Homo sapiens: one gene and its partners. The protein of the gene in region 6 interacts with the protein of the main gene of each other region in a pairwise test. Each region holds a gene or a part of one and is shown on either strand. Other genes may lie near its edges.

Region 1 (2,779 bases), on a different chromosome or scaffold from region 6:
ATATATACACTAATAGGAAATGTTTCAAAAACAATAGCTAGTTTAATGTCAAAATGGCATGAGTATATCCATTCACCGTGGAAATGGGTTTGTTCTCATATTTGCTTTCCAGTCCATCCAAACTCCTCCCTATATGGTGGCAGAAGTTTTAGTGCAAAGCCATGACTGCAGCCTTTTGTGTGACTTGCATGGAAGATTTGGGGGCCCCATATTTCTTAGATGTGTAGATGTCTTTTACAGAAAATTTTGCTAAAAGAGAATTTTGATTGAATCCTGTTTTCTATTTTTTGTTGTTGTTATTGAGACGGAGTATCACTCTGTCACCCAGGATGGAGTGCAATGGCGTGATCTCCGCTCACTGCAATCACCATCTGCCTCCCGGGTTCAAGCGATTCTCATGCCTCAGCCTCCGGAGTAGCTGGGATTACAGGCGTGCACCACCATGCCCAGCTATTTTTGTTGTTTTGGTAGAGATGGTGTTTCACCACATTGGCCAGGCTGGTCTGGAACTCCTGATCTTGTGATCCGCCCACTTCGGCCTCCCAAAGTGCTGGGATTACAGGCGTGACCCACTGCGGCTGGCCCTGTTTTCTAATTTTGATTATAAAACCTAAACCAAATTGTGGTTTTTAAAAAATTTAGTTGTGGCTGGGCACAGTGGTTCACACCTGTAATCCCAGCAATTTGGGAGGCAGAGGCAGGCGGATCACCTGATGTCAGGGGTTCAAGACCATCCTGGCCAACATTGCGAAACCCCGTCTCTATGAAAAATACAAAAATTAGCTGGTTATGGTAGTGGGCACTTGTAATCCCAGCTACTCGGAAGGCTGGGGCAGGGAGAATTGCTTCAACCTGGGAAGCGGAGATTACAGTGAGCTGAGATCATGCCACTGCACTCCAGCCTGGGGGACAGAGCAAGACTCCATCTCAAAAAACAAACAAACAAACAAACAAAACTTTAGTTGTAGGCCAGGTGTGGTGGCTCATGCCTACAATCCCAGCACTTTGGGAGGCCAGAGCGGGCGGATCACTTGAGGTCAGGAGTTCAAGACCAGTCTGCCCAACATGGTGAAACCCCATCTCTATGAAAAATACAAAAATTAGCCGGGCATGGTGGTGCACACCTGTAATCACAGCTACTTGGGACACTGAGTCAGGAAAATCTCTTGAACCTGGGAGACGGAGGTTGCAGTGAGCCGAAATTGTGCTGCTGAACTCCAGCCTGGGCAACAGAGGTGAGTGAGACTCCATCTGAAAAAATAAAAATAAAAAACCTTCTCAAAAACAAAAAATTTAGTTAAGTATCATAAAGACATCCTGAAGGTAGGGGAATTTTTAAAAATCTGTTTTGGAGAAAGATTACATACTCTGATCATAGTTGTGATGCTACCAGTATAATGTTTTATACCTGAAGCAAGGAAGTCAGTGTGGAGCAAGGTCTAGAGCAGTAAACTGAGACGCTGGAGAGTCTACCATTAATCAGATCTGTGATGGTGGGGAGGCCTTGCTCTCTCTTGCCTCCATTTCTTCATCTCTTCAAATTATTGGCAGTTGGGTTAGGATCCAGCTCATGTGTGCTATTTTAAGACTCCCTTGGCTTGCTTTTTCTCTGGTTCCTCCAGGGATGGAAATTTACCCCTGACCACTCTTGCCTTAGTACCTCCTCCCCCACGCAGTTGTGAGGAACCAGCAGTTTAGTTCCTTAAAAACATAGTTGCCTGTTCTGTCCTTTACCTGACATTTTCTATCTTGTTTCTTTTAAACAGTTTGCTGATGGTCGCCAAAGTTGGAGTTAGTATGTTCAACAGACCCCATTAGCAGAAGTCATGTTCCAGCTTAGACTGATGAAGAATTAAAAATCTGCATCTTCCACTATTTTCAATATATTAAGAGAAATAAGTGCAGCATTTTTGCATCTGACATTTTACCTAAAAAAAAAGACACCAAACTTGGCAGAGAGGTGGAAAATCAGTCATGATTACAAACCTACAGAGGTGGCGAGTATGTAACACAAGAGCTTAATAAGACCCTCATAGAGCTTGATTCTTGTATATTGATGTTGTCTTTTCTTTCTGTATCTGTAGGTAAATCTCAAGGGTAAAATGTTAGGTGTCAGCTTTCAGGGCTCTGAAACCCCATTCCCTGCTCTGAGGAACAGTGTGAAAAAAAGTCTTTTAGGAGATTTACAATATCTGTTCTTTTGCTCATCTTAGACCACAGACTGACTTTGAAATTATGTTAAGTGAAATATCAATGAAAATAAAGTTTACTATAAATAATATTTCCTATGGGGTCTTCATTGCCAGAGCTGTCTAGTTCATAGAATGAGATATTGCTAGCAGCAAGATATAGAAACATGAAAGTATTTTGTTAATATTTAGAAATTACCTATTTTGAATAACTTAAGGACCAAGGAAACTTATTTGATTGTACATTGCATTGAAGCTTGTTTCAAAAATGACCTCTGAGGATTTTTTTTGTTTTTCAAGAGACAAGGTCTTTCTCTGTTGCCTAGGCTGGAGGGCAGTGGTGCAATCATATGTCACTGTAGCCTCAAACTCTTGGGTTCAGTCATCCCACCTCAGCCTCCTGAATAGCTGGTACTACTGGTGCATACCACCACACCCAGCTAATGTACTTTTTTTTTTTTTGGAGATGCAGTCTTGCTCTGTTGCCCAGGCTGGTCTCAAACTCCTGGTCTCAAGTGATCCTCTCGCTTTGGCCTCCCAAAATGTACTGGAGTAATAAGCATGACCTACTGTACCTGGCCACTGAGGTT
Region 2 (3,500 bases), on a different chromosome or scaffold from region 6:
ATGCCTGTAATCCCAGCACTTTGGTAGGCCAAGGTGGGTGGATCACCTGAGGTCAGGAGTTTGAGACCAGTCTGGACAACATGGTGAAACACCGTCTCTGCTAAAAATACAAAATTAGCCAGGCATGGTGGCAGACGCCTGTAATCCCAGCTACTTGGGAGGCTGAGAATCACTTGAACCCGGGAGGCAGAGGCTGCAGTGAGCCGAGATCATGCCACTGCACTCCAGCCTGGGAGACGGAGTGAGACTCTGTCTCAAAACAAACAAAAAACAAAACAAAAAACCACGAAGTCAATTGCTTGCTTTTCCCCCAAAACTTGTTCTATCCCCAGCCTTGCCCTTCTCACATGATGACATCACTCCAGATGGTATCTTCCAGTTCTCAGGTCAAAACCTTTGAGTTATGCTTATGCAGCTATTGATAGGCAATGGTATGATTAACTGGGGCCTTAAAGATGATGAAGATATGACATTTACAAGGTGGACAGGCATGATTATTGGGCCACCAAGGACAAATTATGAAAAGAGAATATAGGCCGGGCATGGCAGTTCACACCTATAATCCCAGAACTTTGGGAGGCCAAGGAGGGCAGATCACGAGGTCAGGAGTTTGAGACTAGTCTGCCCAACATAGTGAAACCTCATCTCTACTAAAAATACAAAAAATTAGCTGGGTGTGGTGGTGTGCACCTGTAATCCCAGCTACTCGGGAAGCTGAGGCAGGAGAATCACATGAACCTAGGAAGCAGAGGTTGCAGTGAGCCGAGATCACGCCACTGCGCTCCCGTGTGGGCCACAGCGCGAGCCTCTGTCTCAAAAATAAAAAAAAAGAATATATAGCCTGAAAATAGAAAGTGGACCCAAATACCCAGAAGCTCCCCCATCAGTTAGATTTGTAACAAGAATTAATATGAATGGAATAAATAACTCCAGTGGGATGGTGGATGACCGCAGCACACCAGTGTTAGCAAAATGACAAAATTCATATAGCATTAAAGTTGTACTTCAGGAGCTAAGACGTCTAATGATGTCCAAAGAAAATATGAAGCTTCCACAGCCACTGGAAGGACAAACATACAACAATTAATTTTAGTGGATCTCAAACTTGTCTTATATCAACAACCTTCTACTCGTGTTAATGTCTTGATTAAATATCACAATGCAAAATACCCACACGTTAAATAAAAGAACTCCGGCTGGTAAACATGACCTGGACATTTGTAAGAATATATTTAATATATGTACACCCATTATGTTTTCAGGTAACAGGAAAAATGCAACCCAATTTTTTTCTCTTGTTAAGGTACTGTCATTTAAACATAAACTTGGAGTACTCGAAATATAATTCAGGTTTACAAGATGAAAGCGTGGTAAGAAGTGTCAGATGGCAGTGGAAGCATGTGTGTTTCTAAAGACTAAAAATCTCAATAAAGAAAACAGGGCTGGGCACAGTGGCTCATGTCTGTAATCCCAGCACTTTGGGAGGCTCAGGCGAGCAGATCACTTGAGGCCAGGAGTTCAAGACCAGCCTGGCCAACATAGTGAAAGTCCGTCCCTACAAAAAATCCAAAAATTAACCAGGCGTGGTAGCACGCGCCTGTAGTCCCAGCTACTTAGGAGACTGAGGTAGGATGATCGCTTGATCCCGGGAGGCAGAAGTTGCAGTGAGCTGAGATCGCACCACTGCACTCTAGCCTGAGTGACAGAGTAAGACCCCCATCTCAAACAAAAAAGGAAAGGAAAAAGAAAACAGAGGCCAGGAGAGGTGGCTCACACCTTTAATGCCAGCACTTTGGGAGGCCAAGGTGGGCAGATCACCTGAGGTCAGGAGTTTGAGACCAGCCTGACCAACATGGAGAAACCCTGTCTCTACTAAAAATACAAAATTAGCAGGGCGTGGTGGCCCATGCCTGTAATCCCAGCTACTTGGGAGGCGGAGGCAGAACTGCTTGAACCCCGGAGGTGGAGGTTGTGGTGAGCCGAGATCGTGCCATTGTACTCCAGCCTGGGCAACAAGAGCAAAATTCTGTCTCAAGAAAAAAGAAAACAGAAATGGCATGCTTTATCCATCTTGCTTAGTGAAAGAGAGCTGCAGTTGAAATTGTTTAAAAAGTAGCAGGTATTGGCCAGGCATAGTGGCTCACGCCTGTAATCCCAGCACTTTAGGAGGCCAAGGAGGGTTGATCACTTGAGGTGAGGAGTTAGAGAGACCAGCCTGGCCAACATGGCGAAACCCCGTCTCTACTAAAAATACAAAAATTAGCCAGGCGGGCACCTGTAATCCCAGCTACTGGGATTATACTTGAACCTGGGAGGCGGAGATTGTGGTAAGCCAAGATCGCACCACTGTACCCCAGCCTAGGCGACAGAGCAAGACTCCGTTAAATTAAAAAAAAAAAAAAAAGTAGCAGGTACAATGAACACTGTCACAAATGTGTTTGATTTTTTTAATTTTTTTTATTTTTTTGAGATGGAGTCTTGTTCTGTTGCCCAGGCTGGAATGCAGTGATGAGATCTTGGCTCACTACAACCTCCCAGGTTCAAGCGATTCTCCTACCTCAGCCTCCCAAGTAGCTGGGACTACAGGCATGCACCACCATGCCCAGCTTATTTTTGTATTTTTAGTAGAGATGGGGTTTCACCATGCTGGCCAGGCTGGTCTCGAACTCCTGAACTCAGGTGATCTGCCTGCCTCAGCCTCCCAAAGTGTTGGGATTATGGGTAAAAACTACCACATCCAGCACAAATGTGTTAATTTTTGAAGTGGTGTGGGTGCTGACTACTAGTAGTATGAAAAATATGTTCAGGATTGTTTTGATACCTATCTTATAATAAAAAATGTTGGGGGGGAGTTGATGAATTTCTGTTAAAAGCTGTTCATGTGTGTTACACGTAACAGACATGGTAAATATTTGCTTACAGTTTTTTTTTTTTAACAAACTATGCACTTAAGGTTAAGTGACATCAACAAAAAAGGGATACATATATGGAGATATAATTTTGAAACTAAAGTTGGTCTTTTTTTTTTTTTTTTGAGATGGAGCCTCTCTCTGTTGCCCAGGCTGGAATGCAGTGGCATGATCTCAGCTCACTGCAACCTCTGCCTACTGGGCTCAAGCAATCCTCCTGCCTCAGCCTCCCGAGTAGCTAGGACTACAGGCACATGCCACCACGCCTGGCTAATTTTTGTATTTTTAGTACAGACAAGGTTTCACCATGTTGGCCAGGCTGGTCTGGAACTCCTGATCTCAAGTGATCCACTTGCCTTGGCCTCCCGAAGTGCTGAGATTACAGGCATGAGGCACAGCACCCAGCCCAAAGTTAGTCTGAAAATGTAAATAAAATGTGGAATGTGTCCAAGAAAAAAAAAAACCTTTGAGTTATGCTTAATTCCTCTGTTTCTCTTTACCTCACATCCAATCCATCAGCAAACCCTGTCTACCTTCAAAGCATATTTAGAATCTGGCTACTTACCTCTTCCACTACCACCCGCTAGATAC
Region 3 (3,500 bases), on a different chromosome or scaffold from region 6:
TAGAATTCTGACAGCAGTTACTTTTTGCATTCATTTAGTGGCACCTGCTTAACCAGGAGATTAAAAGCCATCCACAGACCATGATTGTGAGGTATCATGGAACTATGTTTTTAGTTTTAAACCTATAAACTGAAGTGACTAAGAGCAGATATTTTACATTCTTAGGTAACATTTAAGGATTCCTTTTGTTATTTTTAGTATCGAGTTGTGCTGTAGACTCCTATATAGCCATGTAGTTATTTTTATTGTGTTACTTATTCTAACTTTAGATCACCTATACCATGAAAGATCTAAAAGCAATATTGATGTTCACTGCTTTGAGGCAGGCAGCCCAGGACTATTCCCAGGAAAACACAATGTATCCACAGTTCTTAGTGATCAGACATTGATTACTATCAGTTTATTCCAGATAGATCTGTAGAGAAACCTCTCATTTTGTAATACTATAAGATAAAATGAAAATCACCTTGACAGATGGGTGTTTTATGTCATTGCAGTTGTGTTACAGGTGCTCAGTTTGGTATATATAAGACTTAACAGGGAGGGACAGCACTTTATCGAATAACCTCATCTGATGTGACGTCAGTGTTAATAGTTAAAGCACAATCTTTGAGGCAATTTAGTGAGTATTCAGCCTTTTTAGAGGGTCAACAGTGATAGCGACCTATGTATTCTATGCTGTTTCCCCACTCACAAGCCTCCTTATCATCTCTTCTTGTAGCTGAGCTTTATTTTGAAGTTTTCCAAACCTTCAGTCTCACACAAGAGTTGTCACTTACCAATTTGATAAACACAGTTAAGTCCTCCAATACTTTTACCAAAGCATGATTTTCAGACATTTGTTGTATTTGCCTAAAGGGTAAAAAAAAAAAAGGCTATCAATGAAAATTGTGACAGAAAATTACCAGTGAAATCTAAAGTTCAGCAGTGCAGATACATTTCAAAGCCTACACAGAGGGCTGCCAACTACAGCATTGTCACAAACCAGAGATCCCAGTAGGTGGAGCTTAGACATAGGAAGTTGTGAGGTAGGGCTCTCGGGAAGTAAAAAGTGCTTTCTTTTATAAATGAAGATAAAATTGCTGAAATATTCTCACTGCTGTTTGTCCATTTGGTCCTTATGTTTTCAGATCTGACTTTTAGAGAAACAAGGCATTTTGGTAGCACTGCTTACCTTATATCACTTACCGACATATGCTGTACCTGTTTAATTCAGCAGAAGAGCAACTTAGATATTCTTAACTGATTGAAAACTGCTGTTATTACAAAATGCTGATCTCCAAACTTTAACTGAACTCTGCATTTGATGTAATAATGTTATAGAACATTTGAGAGTGCATGTGTTTGTTACTCTCAGTTTATTGGTATATATAATTTAAAATGAAACTGTTTTCTCTTTCAGTGCATTTGAAACGCCACTTTATGTTTCGAAACCATCTCTGTTTAGTTTTTGAAATGCTGTCCTACAACCTCTATGACTTGCTGAGAAACACCAATTTCCGAGGGGTCTCTTTGAACCTAACACGAAAGTTTGCGCAACAGATGTGCACTGCACTGCTTTTCCTTGCGACTCCAGAACTTAGTATCATTCACTGTGATCTAAAACCTGAAAATATCCTTCTTTGTAACCCCAAACGCAGTGCAATCAAGATAGTTGACTTTGGCAGTTCTTGTCAGTTGGGGCAGAGGGTAAGTATTATTTCAGAACTTGTGAATTAAATAGAAATTAAATAGAAGTAGGTAGGACAGTGTAGGTATTAGGTTGGCGCAAAAGTAATTGCGGTTTTCGCCATTGCAGTTGCTGTTTTTGCAGTGGCAAAAACCGCAATTACTTTTGCGCCAACCTAATAGATATTTGAAATGTTAATAAGGTGTATACCATTTAGAGGCAATTACAGGATGCTTATTTATCTTTAAAATGTAGCACTTAATTACCTTGTGTTGATATCTATTTTGGGGAAATACCTTTTAAAATGCAAATAGCAATACTTTGAGTCAAAAGACATTGATTTTTTTGAAATGGGTATATTTAAAATTGTATGTATGCTAAAAGATTAAGGGAGAGAATAGGAGATGGAATGATTAAATATTAGGGGATTTGTAACTATATTTCCCAAGTAAAGGTTTTAGTATAAATTTTGGGACTTTCCAGTACTAGAACATTGAATCTTTGCTGTAAAATACTTCTCTGAAGATGGATCAAGATAAATCTTTTTTCTCAAAAACTGATGGTTCAAAAAAATGCAGGTAATTTTGCATTAGTCATGGTATAAGTATAGAAAATTCAGTTGATAGACTTACTTGTTTTGATAAATAAGTTTGTCTTATTTTCCCCACTCTTATTTAAAATTTACATAAATTCTGACACATATCCAAGCTGGTTTTTTTCAGACTGCTAAAAACAGATGTGTTCGTAGTGCTGATAAGTTTAGCTGATTTAGGAAAGCAGTTTTTTCCTGTCATTCTTCCAGCATTATGAAAACTACTCTAACAGCATTGTTTTATGTATAAAATAGAAGTGATAGGGGTCTCCTCTTGAAAGGAATTAGTGTCACCATTTGATAATATTTTACTCATTTTAAGCACTATTCTTTTTGCTTTAAGTATTGAAACTATATTTCTTCTGTTTTAAAGAAACCCGGCTAACATACAGATGTTAATTTTTCTTACTGACTTTTCTGTTTCTTATTTTTCCAAATTAGTGAAATTTTCTGTCCCGTCCTACTTTTGTCCAGGTTTTAACTATAACAGATTAATTTAATCATAAGGATTTATAGCCAATTAATAGGACTGTCTTTTTGTTATTTTCTGCAACTTCTCATGGTAGTGAGGCTATCAAATGTTAAAGTAATTTTTAAAAATTGGAGTAGGGAGCAAAGTTTGCAGTTTTAGATGCCTTCAAAAAATCAAGAGATGCTCGTAGTTAATATGTGGTAGAGTATATTGTGAATGAAAAATACATGCCCATCTTGACAGTAATTTGAATAGATTATAGAGTTGGGAAAATTTCCCCCTATTTAAGCCAAATTATGTATTTTGTCCTAATATTAAACATTATTATTTCTGTCTAGCCAAAATGAGCCAGTTATCCCTACAATAAGTTTTTAACTATTCAAGTTCATTGGCATCACATGGGAAGTTATTTCTAAAATAGACCTGCAGTGGTCCTGCCCCTAGATCTGTTGGATTAGAATCAGAAGGTGGTAGGGCAAGTGTGTTTTGGGGAAAGCAACTGCTTTAAACAAATTAGATAGGGAGGTGACAAAGTTCTTGGCATAAGCTGTGAAATAAAAGTCTCAGGAGTGGTGAGTGTTTGGGCCTAGGGAGTTAACAATGGTATTGGCTTATAAAAACCATGGAAATGTAATACTTCTTCCCAGTTCTTTTAAATTAGACTTTCTTCTCATAGTTCCTTAAGGTTGGTTGACCTACCTGTGGAGGCCTGAGATTGTTCTCGAAGACTTGGCTGGAGGTTTCAGTGGGAACCACAGAAAATTTCA
Region 4 (3,500 bases), on a different chromosome or scaffold from region 6:
GGGCCATCTGTGTCCACCAAAAATATTCAAACTATACTTAATCATATGAAATATAAAATTCTCCAAGGGCTGGGCCAAAGGAAAGCCCGCTGATGACAGAGGAGCAGATGCTGAGGCCATCCCTGACATACTCCTTGCTTTTTCATATCCTACTGAGGATCCTCTCACTTTGATTCCTGCTCTCCTTGCAGGATTATCAGAATCTCATTCTATGCCCTTTTTCCATCCAGCCCAAATGAGGCCAGAGTCCTGTTCTTTGTCCATTCTCAACAAAGCCGAGACAGGTATGCATTTTCAGAAAGTCTTTTTTTTTATTTTGAGACGGAGTTTCGCTCTTGTTGCCCAAGGTGGAGTGCAATGGTGCGATCTCAGCTCACCACAACCTCCGCCTCCCAGGTTCAAGTGATTCTCCTGCCTCAGCCTCCCTAGTAGCTGGGATTACAGGCATGCACCACCACGCCCAGCTAATTTTGTATTTTTAGTAGAGACGGGGTTTCTCCATGTTGGTCAGGCTGGTCTTGAACTCCTGACCTCAGGTGATCCACCCACCTCAGCCTCCCAAAGTGCTGGGATTACAGGCATGAGCCACCATGCCTGGCCATTTTCAGAAAGTTCTTTAGGAAAACACCATATAATCCAAAAAGGAAATATAAGAAGAGAAAAGACCATTAACTGTATAACTGATGTAAGGATTTCTGGATCTGTGAAATCCAAAAATTCAGGTAAGAACTAGATAGAGAACCTTTTGAGTCCTTGAGAATGACCTCCTCAGCACAAGCAGGCTGACTAGGACGGTGATACCTTGCTCAGTCCCTCCCTTCCCACCGGGGATCTCCACTTGATGAGCAACATTGTGACCCCAGGAGTAGTCTTCCCCAGCCTTCTCTTCCATACAGGGCAAATGCCAAATCCTTCTCTCCTGGATCAACTCTCATACTTTCTAGGCTTCACCCACAACTCAGGATTTACAGCGAGCAAACCATTCATTTGGGGGCTGCAGTGGTAGGCAACCATTCCAGAAATTCCAGCAAATAACTTATTCATCCTGATTCAGATTATCTGCCATATCTGCCTCTTCAGTCACCCTAGGAATGACTCTGGGACTCAGATTCTGCACGAGGATGCCAAGTATTAGAATGATTTTTAAAATCAGTTTTAATTTGAAGTTTTACCATCCTCTACTGATTAAAAGGCAAGGTACAAAGGAAAGGTTAACCCTCTTTGCATTGAGAAGCCTCCTAAAATATAAATATGTGTATACTCCAATGTCTTCATCACCAAACCTTTCCTGATATACCAAATTATGAGCAAATAGAGGTGAAAGAATTTTTAAAACTCTGTAGCACATTGGGAGTTGTAATCCTCTCCTCTCCCAGCACACTGTGGTGCCCAAGTTCCTATAAAAATAACTGCTTTTGGTCAAAGTATCAACGTCTCCTACTAAATTGCAATATTTTACCTAGGAAAGTGGCACATTAATGTGCTAGCAGGAATTTGTGAGGACCGTTCCCACCTGAAGGAGGGGAAAGTGTGGTAAGTAGAAAGGCGATTGAAGGAAGACCTAGCTGGGAATGAGGGACTCCTGGACAGGACAGGAAGACAGGCATGGTGGTGTGAACAGGGGGCCCACTGGAGAGCCCTAGGGGAGGGATGAGGGATGGTGGGTAGAGACAATCAGGAGGTGGTTGCTAAAGGGATAAAGAGATCCAGAAACCAATGCTGACTAATTCACAATTTTGCCCAGGACTGATTGAAATCCCTGGAAGAGTCTGCTTGATTTTAAACCTGCAATCAGCTAATCAATAATTTACCGATTTAGAAAGCTCCAACAGCATGTATAAGTTGAAGGAAGCATCAGCTATTATAAGGTGGAGAAAAAGAAATAAATGTAATCATTTTGCTACCACAATACAAAAATATCTCAAGACATGTAAATTTTTAAATGTCTGTCTCGCAGTAAAATGTCCCTTTTTGGTAAAAATGATTCTTAGAAAATGTGCAAGTTTGCTTTTAACTGAATAATGACATCTTTCTTTTAGATGACCAGGGAAATCTGTGCAAGTCTATTATTTCAAAGGATTTTGATACCACCATCAGAAGCCTTCATAATAACACATGGCAGCTATTTTAAGTATAAAGAAGGACCACAGTTACTCACAGCCATATTTTAATCCTGATAGGCTTTCCTCATCACGCAGTACATCTGTGTCTTCCCTTTGTCAGGTCCATTTGTGGGTGCTCAGGAAATAGAGTCTAATTTTAATACTGAAAAATTAAAGAAAACCTTAATTAAAAGATACCCTTTTCAAAAGTCATATAATACATTCCCTTGCTCGAGTCAAGCTCCCTTGTGATACTGACAAAAACAGAAGACACCCATAATTACTTACGAAGCCCAGCAGGCGTAGTCATTGCAGCCAGGGTCATTCACACTCTTAGTCACTTGCTTTAGTTTTAGTAATTTTCAAAGTGGCGTTCCTCATCCCTTGCCCATGCTTCCTACACACTGCATCTCGATTCATCTTTTTAAGCCCAGATCTCACCACTCTTCCCCTCAGAAAACCTTTGCACCCCAGTGTCCACAGCCCATTAACCCCCTTGTGGGCCTGATGCCCAGATGTTTTCCGGACCACAGATTAGGACCTATGCTGACAATGGAATTTTTAAGATCTGAGTTTTATTTTTATAAGTTTAGAAAGGAGTCAACACCAAATCACATTTAGTTCTCAGTAAAATGGCCAATGTGTTGATCAGAATAAACTTCCGTGTAACTGAGTCTGTGGACACCTGTGGAGAATGTCCTCATTTTGTCTGTTTTTCAGCTTGATCCAATACCTGCTGTGCTCTAACACCTCCAGGTTTCCTACCTCATAATACTTGCCTCCTCTCCTTCTTTCCATCTGTGGAGAGGAGGGGAGGCAAGCACTATGAGGCAAGCATCTTTCCTCTCCTTCTTTCCATCTCTCCCTCCCTTAGGGTTCACACCAAATACCCACTTCTCGGTGGGGCCTTCTTTGTTTCCCTTCACCAAGGATGGGGTGTTTTTTACTCCATCTCCAGAGACATCACCTGTACTCGGTGGCAGCACTGATTACAGTGCGAGTCTTGACAGTGTTTATCTCCTCCTTATTACACAATAAGCTCCTTGAGGAATTATTTGCTGTTCTGGGATCATTGCCTTTTTAAATATAAGTTAAATCAAATCTTCAACCCCTTACAGTCCAGGGAACTGAATTCAAAACCCGAGGTGCCAGCTAACTGATGCAGAGAGGAAAAACAAAAGCACAAGTCATCAAGCCGGACTGAGGTGCTGGACCATCACATTTGAAGTAAGTCTTGTTTGAAAGAAAGACAGCTAGTTCAAGTCACAATGACACTTTAAAACCCACAGATCTTGTAATTTGAAGAGCCATAAGTTATTTGGCTCATTAAATTTTCCTTGGCCTCCGTGTTGATGGGTGGAATCTGAAATATAAAAATCAGCCAGAAATTGAAAGTTA
Region 5 (4,214 bases), on a different chromosome or scaffold from region 6:
GGTCCAACTAACGAGCTATGAGATGCCCAAGGTGGATGAGGACCTGGGCTCCTAAAGTCCCACAGCCCATTGTGTCCAGAGAGATGCTGCCCTGGGGACCCGACACAATGGCACCTTGGTTGCAGCCGTCCGGGCTGGCAGCTCACAGAGGCACAGTGGGGTTTTCTCATTTCAAATGCCTGGCCCCTTTCCAGAGGCACTTAGAATGGCCAGCTGATGGGCGTGCTACTTTTGCTTTGGAAAATGCGTCCACGAATATACTTCTCTCCCTAGGGACTGGGAAGGAGGAAGAATTGTGCAGCAGGGAGAGGTGAAGGCCCCACTGGAGAGAAGGGGAGCCCCTTGTCCTGCCTGCAGCAGCTGCCAATGGAAAGAAAGAAGAGTTGGGAGTCTAAGCTGGAGGTTGCGGGGCCAATTCCCTTTTGGCAGGCGAGAATCCGGACTCGGGCGGATTTCAGGCTTCAGTGTTTGTAGGAGGAAACACAGCAATCACACTATTAATAGTAAATTAAAATAAATGGGCAACTGCTGCATGGTAATACTTTTTTTTTTAAGGCAAAAAATAAAAAATAGTGAAACAGAGAAACAAAACATGAAACACCGGCAGTCAACAGGCAGGCAAAGAACCTGGGGGTGGGGGTAGCAGCGGTCCCACCCTCAAAAGGCCCGGGCTGCCCAGACCAAGAGAAAGCGATGAATCTCTTCTGGTAACGTCCCTTCCTGTCGCATGGATTCAAGGCCGACCTGCCCCAGCACCACCACCAGCAGCCTTCTGCTGGGGCCGGCACAGCTGGGAGCAACCTCCTACTCTCAGGCAGACGCGCAGCACCAAGCAGAGAGGCCCGGTGCAGGATCCCAGCGCCGAACCAGCGCCGGCTCAGTGGACGCGGAAGGGGCCGGCGGCCGCGGCCGGTCCCATCCCCCACTGCAGACCCCCAGCCTGTGGCGGTGGTCCAGTTCCGCCAGGAAACCGCCGCCTGGAGCTGTGGGTCGCGCACATTAACGCATCCAGCGGAAAAATGAAGGAGACCCAAATTCAAAGTTAAAGTAATGGTGACCCGAGAGGTGCCTTGATGAGAAGGTTTGGGGTCCCGGTTACTGATGGTTATCATTCTTACGAGATGCTGGTCACCTACGAAGGGAGAAAGGCACGAGGAGCGCCTGACCAAAGTGGTTTTGCCCTGCTTCCCGCAAGAGGTGGCACCCACGGCTGGAACGCAGGAGTCAGACCCACAGTCCCCAGCTCTGGACGCCCGCAGCGGGGCCTCGAAGAGGTTCAGGGCGGTGCCCGCGGCGCTCGGGCCGGGTCTCCCGGGGCGTGGGGCGGGGGGCGGGGTTGGGCGGCGGCCGGGGCTCCTCCCTCTTCTGCCCCGGGCTCCCCTGCTCTTAACCCGCGCGCGGGGGCGCCCAGGCCACTGGGCTCCGCGGAGCCAGCGAGAGGTCTGCGCGGAGTCTGAGCGGCGCTCGTCCCGTCCCAAGGCCGACGCCAGCACGCCGTCATGGCCCCCGCAGCGGCGACGGGGGGCAGCACCCTGCCCAGTGGCTTCTCGGTCTTCACCACCTTGCCCGACTTGCTCTTCATCTTTGAGTTTGTGAGTGGCTCCTGGCCGGGGAAGGGACGGGGTGGGCTGAGCCGTGCGCTCTCTCGGGCGCCCAGCACAGCTGTCGGACGGGATCCGCTAGCTGCGCAGGTTCTGGGAGCATCGGGGCAGCAGGCGCAGGGCGGGGACTAAGCCAGGGAAGTCCCCTCCCACCTCCGGTCCTTTGTGCCCTTCTAGACCAACAGAATGAGGGGAACAGTCTACAGGACTATGGAGGAAAAACTGGGTTCCCAACTGGGGTCAGATGTAGGCAGCGGGGCAGGGGGGGACGGCTCTTGGTTCGCTGGTCCCAAAGCTGCGCGCGGGGCCCACTTGACGCGCGCAGCGCCACCGAAGCTCCCGCCGCGCTTTGCGCGGTTGGGTAGAAGTGCGCAGCTTTTACAAGGGAGAAGGTTTCGTTAAAAAAGAAAAAAAAATCAGCAAGAGAAACATTAGTATTACCAACCGAGATTTGGAGATGAGAGGGAGCTGAATCCGGTTTATTTTCTTCTGGCCTTTTAAAGTTTCTGGCGAGGGAACGTATTTGCGACCAATTCGATCTGGAAATGAGGCCATCGTTTGCTTGGCCGCAGTCCTTCTGCCCCGTGTGCGGGGTGGGGGTGGAGGAGATGGGGGGTGGGGGGTGGGGGGTGGCGGCGAGAGCGATCCGCGCGCCTCGACTGACCTTGGGCAGGCCCGGGGCCTCTGCACCTGCGGTCGGTCCCGCCTTGCACGCACGGTCTCTGCCTGAGGCTGCAGGAAAGCGCTTCCTACTGAGAACTCCTGATAAGCGCTCACGGTGTCGCGAAGCCGAAGTGACCTCCCTCAGCCTCAACTCCCCGGGGGCCGCTGGCCTTCACCTGGGAGGGGTGTGCCCTGTATGTCCTGTGGGTGCGGTCCGTCACCGCCTGAGGGACACCTTTTCCGGCACCCCACCCTCAGAAGTGTCAGCGTGGAGAGTTGGGCGGGAAAGAAAATGTCGGAGCCTGGCTGTTTAAAAATTGGACCCCAGGTTGTTATTGCCTGATTGGAGGGGGAGGGTGTGAATACCAAAGGGAGCAGGTCAGTTCATCCAAAGAGGGCTTGCGGGCAGAGGCTAAGAGGGCTGCGGCGGCCTGGGAGCAGGGCTACCATTGAACTTAGGGTGAAAGTCCAGTCGAACCCAAACCTGGGTGGAACCGGTGACTTGAAATCCTAGGGATAGGCGGAATCAAAGCAGTTACATTTAGAAGAAACCCTGGACGCCAATGAACGCAGCCCCACCGTTTACAGAGAGCCAGCCCCCCGCTGGCCTCCTTTTAGAAGTTCAGCATACAAGAAGGAGTGCCCCTGAGAGTAGGAACAGTCCAGTTAGACGGGGCGATCTGATCTGCGGGAAAGGTGACCGGAGACTCCCACCCAACCCGCCAATGCTGCAGAAATTACAGGGGCGTGGGAAACCTTGGAACCATCTACTACTGGCAGCTTGCTCTTCCAGCGTGGCTTTGTGGCCTGCCGGTAGCGGGGCTTCCAGAAGAAACAACTCCCCCTCGCCCAGAACGCTTCTCTCAGCTGACTTAGAAAGTCACTTCTCCACCTCACCCCTGTTCCCCACCTCCCTTCCTCACTTCCCAGGAGACCCGCAATGCATAGTCATCTCCAGGCATCTTCCACATGCTCTAGATTAGGGGTGGGCTCGCAGGTGCCTGGGAGAGAAGAGGAGAAAGCTGACCCCAAGCCTCTCAGTTCTCCTCTGCATGGACTGTAAATACGAAGCTGTATATATTTGATGTGTGGAAGGAGTGGAGAATTAAAGGGCCTGAGAAGGCGCTGGCCACCCCGGGAGAGTTTTTGTTTTTGTTTTTGTTTTTGCTTTTGAGACGGAGTCTCGCTCTGTCGCCCAGGCTGGAGTGCAGTGGCGCGATCTTGGCTCACTGCAGGCTCCGCCTCCCGGGTTCACGCCATTCTCCTGCCTCAGCCTCCCAGCTACTCGAGAGGTTTTTTTAATTATGGAATATTACAACTCGACAACAAAAAGACAACCCAATTAGAAAATGGACAATGGACTTGAACAGAGGTTTCTACAAAGAAGATACACAAATGGCCAATATGCACATAAAAAGATGCTTAACATCATCAGGCATTAGGAAAACTAAATTGAAACCACAATGAGGCCAGTTGCGGTGACTCACGCCTGTAATCCCAGCACTTTGGGAGGCTGAGGTGGGTGGATCACCTGAGGTCAGGAGTTCGAGACCAGACTGACCAACATGGTGAAACCCCATCTCTACTAAAAATACAAAAAAAAAAAAAAAAAAAAAAAACCCGGCTTGGGTGGCTCATGCCTGTAGTCCCAGCTACTCAGCAGGCTAAGGCATGAGCATCGCTTGAACCTGGGAGGCAGAGGTTGCAGTAAGCCGAGATCATGCCGCTGCACTCCAGCCTGGGCAACAGAGTGAGACTCGGTCTCAAAAAAATAAATTAATAAGTAAATAAATTAAATAAATAGAAAGAAAGAAATCACAATGAGATACCACTTCACACCCATTAGGATGGCTACTATCCAAAAAACGGAAAACATCAAGTATTGGATGTGGAGAAATTGGAACCCTTGGTATGCCACTGGCGGGAATGTGAAATGGTTCAGCCACTGTG
Region 6 (3,500 bases):
TCCCTGTTTGCCCCCAGGTAGGCCTTACTCTGTGCCCCCCTGTGTGGAGGAGGCTCTGGGACAGAAGCGCAAGAGGAAGGGCGCTGCCAAGCTGCAGGACTTCCACCAGTGGTACCTGGCTGCCTGTGAGTGGGTGTGGTGTGCACTCCGGACCACTGGGAGCTGGGGGCTGGGCCAGGGCCAGTGGAGGAGGATCAGCACCCTTTTCCCAATGCTGTGGGCAGCTCTTGGCCTGGCTGGTGCTGAGCATGTTCTTTCACAGATGCAGACCATGCCGACAGCAGGCGGCTTCGGCGAAAGGGTCCGTCCTTTGCAGGTGAGGCTGAAGTCCTCGGGGAAGACAGTTTTACTCTCCTTCCCCTACCTCTTCCCCCACCTGGTGTCACCCAAAGCCTTGGGTGGACTGGCACGGGGCCTGGGAAGGACGAGGGAGCCCTCACAAGGCCTTTGTCTGCAGACATGGAGGTCCTGTACTGGACACACGTGAAGGAGCAGTTGGAAACTCTCCGGAAGCTGCAGAGGAGGGAGGCAAGTCCCAGCTGGTCAGCTGTGATCTAGGACCCCGTGGTGGCCCTGATGGGAGGTGACAGTGCCCCTCACAGATGCTTTCTCTGGACAGGTGGCTGAGCAGTGGCTGCGGCCTGCAGAGGAGGACCACCTGGAGGATTCCCTGGAAGACCTGGGGGCAGCAGGTGGGTGCCTGCCAGGGGGTGGGGTGGGGCTTGGCACCTGCCGACTAGCTGCCTGCGTGCTGTTCACTCTCCCACCTCCCAGCAGATGACTTTCTAGAGCCTGAGGAGTACATGGAGCCCGAGGGAGCAGACCCCAGGGAAGCCGCTGACCTTGGTAGGTGGGCAGCGGGCTAGGAGTGCTGAGGGGCCACTGGAGCTGGGGGCAGGGGAGAGCGTGGCCCCTTAGCTGCCCAGCTCACAGCTACCCCTTCCCAGACGCAGTGCCGATGTCCCTGAGCTACGAGGAGCTGGTTCGAAGGAATGTGGTAGGCCTGGGTTAGAGGGAGACGGGGAGGGGAGGGGGACAGGTGAGCGGTGCCCAGGCCCCTGCTTGGGAGGCAGTAGCTCCTGCTGATCCTCCCCTAGGAGCTCTTCATCGCCACCTCCCAGAAGTTTGTCCAGGAGACAGAGCTGAGCCAGCGCATCAGGGACTGGGAGGACACAGTGCAGCCTCTGCTCCAGGAGCAGGTGAGGCGGGGCCGCTGGGAACCAGAGCTGTGTGCCACGGGTCTGTCCAGGGCCTTGCCTCTCTCCGCAGCCAACATGCCCCTCCCCTGTGCAGGAGCAGCATGTGCCCTTTGACATCCACACCTATGGGGACCAGCTGGTCTCACGGTTCCCCCAGCTCAATGAGTGGTGTCCCTTTGCGGAGCTGGTGGCTGGCCAGCCGGCCTTCGAGGTGTGTCGTTCCATGCTGGCCTCCCTGCAGCTGGTGAGTAGCCTGGGATACGTGGGAGGGGGAGACGGTCCCCAGACCCTGCTGATGTGCCACCCCTGCAGGCCAATGACTACACAGTGGAGATAACCCAGCAGCCCGGGCTGGAGATGGCCGTGGACACCATGTCCCTGAGACTGCTCACGCACCAGCGAGCGCACAAGCGCTTCCAGACCTACGCTGCCCCCTCCATGGCCCAGCCCTGAGTGGGGAGCACCGAGGCAGGGGTGGGGGAATGTGTACTGAGGAGCCGTGTGTCTGCTCCTGGCTGGCCCGGCCTAATAAAGCAGTGTTGCCATCTCATCTTCCCCCTAAAAACCCTTTTATGTACACCTGCGCAGAGAAGAGGGCTGCCTGGCCTCCCTGGGCCGCTGGTACAGATCACACACACACACAGATTAAACGCAGCCCGTTTAATGATGGGGCCCAGACTGCAGTGGCTCAAGACAGGACACTGCGGAAAGCCGCCATGTGCCGCCGCACACTGTCTGAGATCTGCTCAGCCGATCTGCTCCGGCCGTAGTAATCCGTGAAGAGGCCGTCAGGGTTGAGCAGGTAGATGGCAATGGAGTGGTCCACGATGTAGTCCTGGTCCTCATCCTTGGGGCCTGCATTGTAGTACACGCGGTAACTGTGACTAGCCTGGGCAACCTGTTTGGTGGAGCCGGTCAGACCCAACAGTCTTGGGTGGAAGTCCTGGACGTAGCGGGCCATGGCTTCAACGTCGTCCCGCTCGGGGTCCACAGTGATGAAGACAGGCTGCACTGGAGGCAAACCAGGCTCTGCTTCCAGCTGCCGCACCACCTGCACCAGCTTCTCCAGCTCGTCTGGGCAGATGTCAGGGCAGTGAGTGAAGCCAAAGTACATCAGCACCCACTGGCCCCGGAAGTCAGCCTTGCAGCGAGCCCGGCCTCTGTGATCCAGCAGGTGGAAGTCGCCCTGGCCCACAGCTGCCTGGCGCAGGGCTTCTGTTCGCTTTTGCTGCTGCAGCCTCTCCTTCTCAGCCCTCAGGGCCAGCCAGGCCCCACCGAGTCCAGCCCCGAACAGGCCTGTGATCAGCAGCCGGGTTCGAAGCCCAGGGCCCTGGGGCTGGCCCTGCCCACCTGTCTCTGCAGGGCCCTGCCTTGACAAAAGCCAGGACCTCAGATGCAGGGCCTGGCCTCCCAGGGTCCCAGGGAGGACCCGAGGCTTGAGCTGAGAGAGCCTGTGCCAAGCTGTGGGGCTCCGAGTCAGCAGCAGCATGGATCTGATGCTCCTGGAAACAAGCACAGGCGTCAGGAGCCAGAAGGGAAGGCCCAGGACAGTGCCTGGGCTGCCCCTGCGACTTGAGACCAGCCACCCATCTGAAGGACCCAGCCCACGTTCAGGCTTAACAGGCATTTGCAGCTGCTCACCTGAGCTCAGAACTCCACCTCCACCAAACATCCACACCTGGGCAACCACACCTGTCACTCCTGTCCTCTACCTGGGATCACCAGCCTGTCACCGCACCCTGCCCTGCACCTGCACCTCAGCAAGGTGAACCTCTTGCTGACGGAAAGCATTCCAAGTGCATGCCTTGCCTGAACTAACCACGTTATCTATTTGCAATAAACCCATTTCTTAAAAGGAGGTGGGTAACTCTCTGGCTTGCAATCCCCGAGAGCAACCGATTCCTCCAACACTTTCCTGTTACCTCCAGCCACTTCAACCAACCGCGGCCTTCCTCCACACTCCCAGCAGAAAACCTGCACGACCTACCCCCGGAGCTCAGACTCTGCCCGCCGGCTGTGTTTAACCTCTCCTGGCAGAGACGCACGACACTTCCACCCGCCACAAAACCCCACCCTCCTCACATCCAGGCTTCCCAGCAGCTCCTCCGGGCTCACAGCCGACGCCCTGCCTTTGCGTTGGTGACCTTTGAGCCTTTCCCACGGGCCCCCGCAGAAGGTTTGCTAGGTGGAGGTCTCAGGACTCCCGGTCACTGCCCCCTCCTGCTGAGGGCACCCTCCCGAGGACTCACTGCACCCCCGCCCGGGCGGTTCTGGGTTTGTGCCCTCCCCAGCAAGGCCAGC
Region 7 (2,853 bases), on a different chromosome or scaffold from region 6:
TCAATATTTAAATCTTAACCTATTTTTATCAATGATTACTTGAGAAAATCAAGTGTAATTCAAGCTGAACTCTTTCAAATTGTAGGACATGTTTATTTTTAAGCCTAAATGTTATGTCTCTCTAGCCTAGCTATATAAAATAGCCTTTCTCTCAAAGCCAATGCTAGGGCAAGAAAATGGACAGGGGACTAGATTAAAAGAACTGAGAGAAACATAAAAAAAAAAAATGCAATTGAAACCTGATTGGCTCTAGATCCAAATAAAAATCTACACACTTTGGAATATGGGCTGGATATGGCTGACATTACAGAATTATTCATTTTATTAGGTATTATAATGGTATTGTGGTTATAAAGGAGGATGTCCTCAATCTTAGAAAATGTAGGCTGAAATATTTAGGGGCGAAGTACTGTGACCTCGTCACCTTATTTTCAAATGTTTCAGCAAAAAGTTATATATTTAAATAGAAAAAGCAAATGTGGCACAATATTAACAACTCATGAATTTAACTGAAGAGTTTATTATACTTTCAACTTTTCTGCAGATGTAACATTTTTTAAATAAAAAGTTGAGAATAAAAAAATCACAAAAATAGTTTTGCTGAAGAAAATACCACACATTCCTTTTTACTATAATATTTAATATAATAATATACACTTATACATTGGTATTATTTACACTTCATTAAAAAAAACCCATTCAACCTGAAATTAACTACCTTAAACACACTATTTAACTTTCAGTGCTAATGTATTAATTTCTTAAATATAAATCAAAATAGCTCAATATCTAAATTACTGATAACTAGATGCAGATGTAAGGATCATGAATCAATACTTCCATTAAGTTAAAAATATCAATAATTTTTTGCAACATTTCTTCTTTGTTTTTCTTCTTTGTCTAGAATAGTCTGTTTTAAGCTCAAAGTAGCATCTTGAAATCCAGGATTTAAGTCTAAGACCTTCTTGAAATCTTCCAAAGCATCATCAAAATATCCTGTACCAGAACCCAAAAAATGGAAAAGAGAAAAGAAACCGAGTATTTCTATATATTATTCATGGAAAAGCTTTGATACATGTACTTTTGCTTTTATATTTATGAGCTTTCAGTCACTTCTAGTAAAGGAATCTTTTTATCTTAATAATATAGAGATGTGTATATCAAAGTAATTTTGTGTGCCCTTAGGGAATAATACACCTAAAATTAGCTATGGGTTTATTTATTGAGATTTAACAGGTAAATATTATCAATCATCTTAAAATTTTAATAAAACTGTATCACCTGTTTTACATAATTGCAGTAAAATTAAGAAACGGGAACTAATTTTCTTTTTGACACTTTAAATGAAGAAACACTACCTATGGTCCCTTTAATCCAAGAATCTAAACTTCACTTTCTATTGTCTTGTGTGTCTTCAAAGATTTTAACTCAGAAAAGTTTCACAGGTGAACATCTGAATTGCCCTCATTTCACAGCTGGGAATGCACAAGCACAAAGTAATGGGGTCACCCCTGCTCCTGCGCCCAGGTCCAATTCCCACCCCAGTGCTCTGCTGTGATCTATAACGCCTATCAAAAGCCTAAAATAAACTCAGGGACACTTCCTTTGTTCCAAGCTCTAAACCTAAATTTCACAGAACTTTAAAATTTGATTACCACGTTAGTTTTACAACATTTGAAAGCTCTGAAATAACAGAATACAGTCAATGACAAAACTCAAAAAGAAAAAAAATTCTTACCCAGCCTATACAGTATCAACCCTCTGTTGTAATATGGAACTTCAAAATTGGGTTGGACTTCTATGGCAGATGTGTAGTCATCCATGGCTTCATAAAAATCAACCCTGAAGTACTTGATTTGCCCCCTGTTGTTATATGCAGTAGCCAAATCCTCAGGGCTGCATTTGCTTTAAACAAAAAGTTCACATTAAAAACACCGTGTTACCAAATTCCTCTCATTTCCACTTTCATTCTCTTTTGGGTATTGTCAAACTTCACAGCCTATAACATGCAGCATCAACACTGAAAATCCAAGCTGAAGAAAAAACGTACAAATAAAGAGCTAAAATCAATTTTTGTTTAACCCTGTTATCTACTTTTGTAGGGTTATACCACTGCAATGTCAACCTGAAAAGCATACTAACTTTACAGTGTGTTCACTGCCAATTTGTTCTGCTGAATATAACATTAAAATGATTGTTCATTTTTCTAAGCACACACCAGCAGGGCAAAGAAGACAGAACAGATAAATACTAAGCAAAGAGGGAAAGCCAGCCCAAAGCCCGAGTTTGCTATGGATATGTCACAATGTGAATCAATTTCATTCTCAAATTTTTAAGTGATCTTAAAACAATAAGATTTGAAATCATTTTCCACCAATAAAAAACTAAAGTTAACGCTAAGTGAAAATTCAACATGCTACGATCCCCAGGAAGTTATCTCTGGGGACAGAGTTGCCCTCCCTCCAGCCTCAGCTGGCATCCTCCCCAATGCCAGGCTGGCTTCCTGCTAGGAGGGTGGGCTCCTTTAGACCCCCTCAGGGCTCCAGTCAATTTTGATGTCCTTTGTGCAGAACTGGCTCTGCACCTGAGGGAACTAGAGGTTGCCCAAAGAGCTTTAAATTAGCAGCCATTCCTGGGCTGTACAGCCAGGTAGCTCTGACCAGCCACCAGCTCAACAGGTCACAGCCCCTGGCTGCCTTGAACCTTTCTCTGCACAGGACAAATAGTCTGCACAGAGAACATTAGTGCCTCTGCTCTGAGTCAGGGATGATTCTGTTTCCCTTTCTTTTTTCCCAAAGCAATTCTCAAATTAGAACCAAACAGAGAATTCATCTGTCACTTCTTTGTAATACC

What was found.
Region 1: the proteins of NCAPH2 (region 6) and TMEM14C interact in binary tests that used the Homo sapiens proteins (3 or more experiments, as listed by UniProt).
Region 2: the proteins of NCAPH2 (region 6) and UBIAD1 interact in binary tests that used the Homo sapiens proteins (3 or more experiments, as listed by UniProt).
Region 3: the proteins of NCAPH2 (region 6) and DYRK1A interact in a two-hybrid assay, tested with the Homo sapiens proteins (one large-scale study listed by BioGRID and IntAct).
Region 4: the proteins of NCAPH2 (region 6) and CTXN3 interact in binary tests that used the Homo sapiens proteins (3 or more experiments, as listed by UniProt).
Region 5: the proteins of NCAPH2 (region 6) and MAL interact in binary tests that used the Homo sapiens proteins (3 or more experiments, as listed by UniProt).
Region 7: the proteins of NCAPH2 (region 6) and TTC32 interact in a two-hybrid assay, tested with the Homo sapiens proteins (one large-scale study listed by BioGRID).

Annotation. Positions count from the first base shown.
Region 1 is NC_000006.12:10,728,849-10,731,627, forward strand, and holds the end of TMEM14C (transmembrane protein 14C), read left to right. Parts: intron 1-1,766; coding exon 1,767-1,818; 3' UTR 1,819-2,279; downstream 2,280-2,779. UniProt on the Homo sapiens protein: Required for normal heme biosynthesis.
Region 2 is NC_000001.11:11,276,198-11,279,697, reverse strand, and holds part of UBIAD1 (ubiA prenyltransferase domain-containing protein 1), read right to left. Parts: intron 1,285-3,500; exon of another isoform or gene 825-1,284; intron 522-824; exon of another isoform or gene 423-521; intron 1-422. UniProt on the Homo sapiens protein: Prenyltransferase that mediates the formation of menaquinone-4 (MK-4) and coenzyme Q10. MK-4 is a vitamin K2 isoform present at high concentrations in the brain, kidney and pancreas, and is required for endothelial cell development.
Region 3 is NC_000021.9:37,488,773-37,492,272, forward strand, and holds part of DYRK1A (dual specificity tyrosine-phosphorylation-regulated kinase 1A), read left to right. Parts: intron 1-779; exon of another isoform or gene 780-852; intron 853-1,174; exon of another isoform or gene 1,175-1,273; intron 1,274-1,402; coding exon 1,403-1,689; intron 1,690-3,500. UniProt on the Homo sapiens protein: Dual-specificity kinase which possesses both serine/threonine and tyrosine kinase activities. Exhibits a substrate preference for proline at position P+1 and arginine at position P-3.
Region 4 is NC_000005.10:127,652,082-127,655,581, reverse strand, and holds part of CTXN3 (cortexin-3), read right to left. Parts: intron 3,330-3,500; exon of another isoform or gene 3,221-3,329; intron 2,533-3,220; exon of another isoform or gene 2,391-2,532; intron 2,266-2,390; 5' UTR 2,159-2,265; intron 1-2,158.
Region 5 is NC_000002.12:95,024,294-95,028,507, forward strand, and holds the start of MAL (myelin and lymphocyte protein), read left to right. Parts: upstream 1-1,414; 5' UTR 1,415-1,499; coding exon 1,500-1,592; intron 1,593-2,046; exon of another isoform or gene 2,047-2,140; intron 2,141-2,265; exon of another isoform or gene 2,266-2,736; intron 2,737-4,214. UniProt on the Homo sapiens protein: May be involved in vesicular trafficking from the Golgi apparatus to the cell membrane. Plays a role in the maintenance of the myelin sheath, and in axon-glia and glia-glia interactions.
Region 6 is NC_000022.11:50,521,724-50,525,223, forward strand, and holds the end of NCAPH2 (condensin-2 complex subunit H2), read left to right. Parts: intron 1-17; coding exon 18-125; intron 126-262; coding exon 263-316; intron 317-457; coding exon 458-528; intron 529-619; coding exon 620-692; intron 693-774; coding exon of another isoform or gene 775-777; coding exon 778-846; intron 847-947; coding exon 948-997; intron 998-1,097; coding exon 1,098-1,199; intron 1,200-1,293; coding exon 1,294-1,443; intron 1,444-1,511; coding exon 1,512-1,652; 3' UTR 1,653-1,887; coding exon of another isoform or gene 1,888-2,688; 3' UTR 2,689-3,057; downstream 3,058-3,500. Other genes in the region: protein SCO2 homolog, mitochondrial precursor, read right to left, coding at 1,888-2,688. UniProt on the Homo sapiens protein: Regulatory subunit of the condensin-2 complex, a complex that seems to provide chromosomes with an additional level of organization and rigidity and in establishing mitotic chromosome architecture.
Region 7 is NC_000002.12:19,896,131-19,898,983, forward strand, and holds the end of TTC32 (tetratricopeptide repeat protein 32), read right to left. Parts: intron 1,906-2,853; coding exon 1,739-1,905; intron 997-1,738; coding exon 857-996; 3' UTR 501-856; downstream 1-500.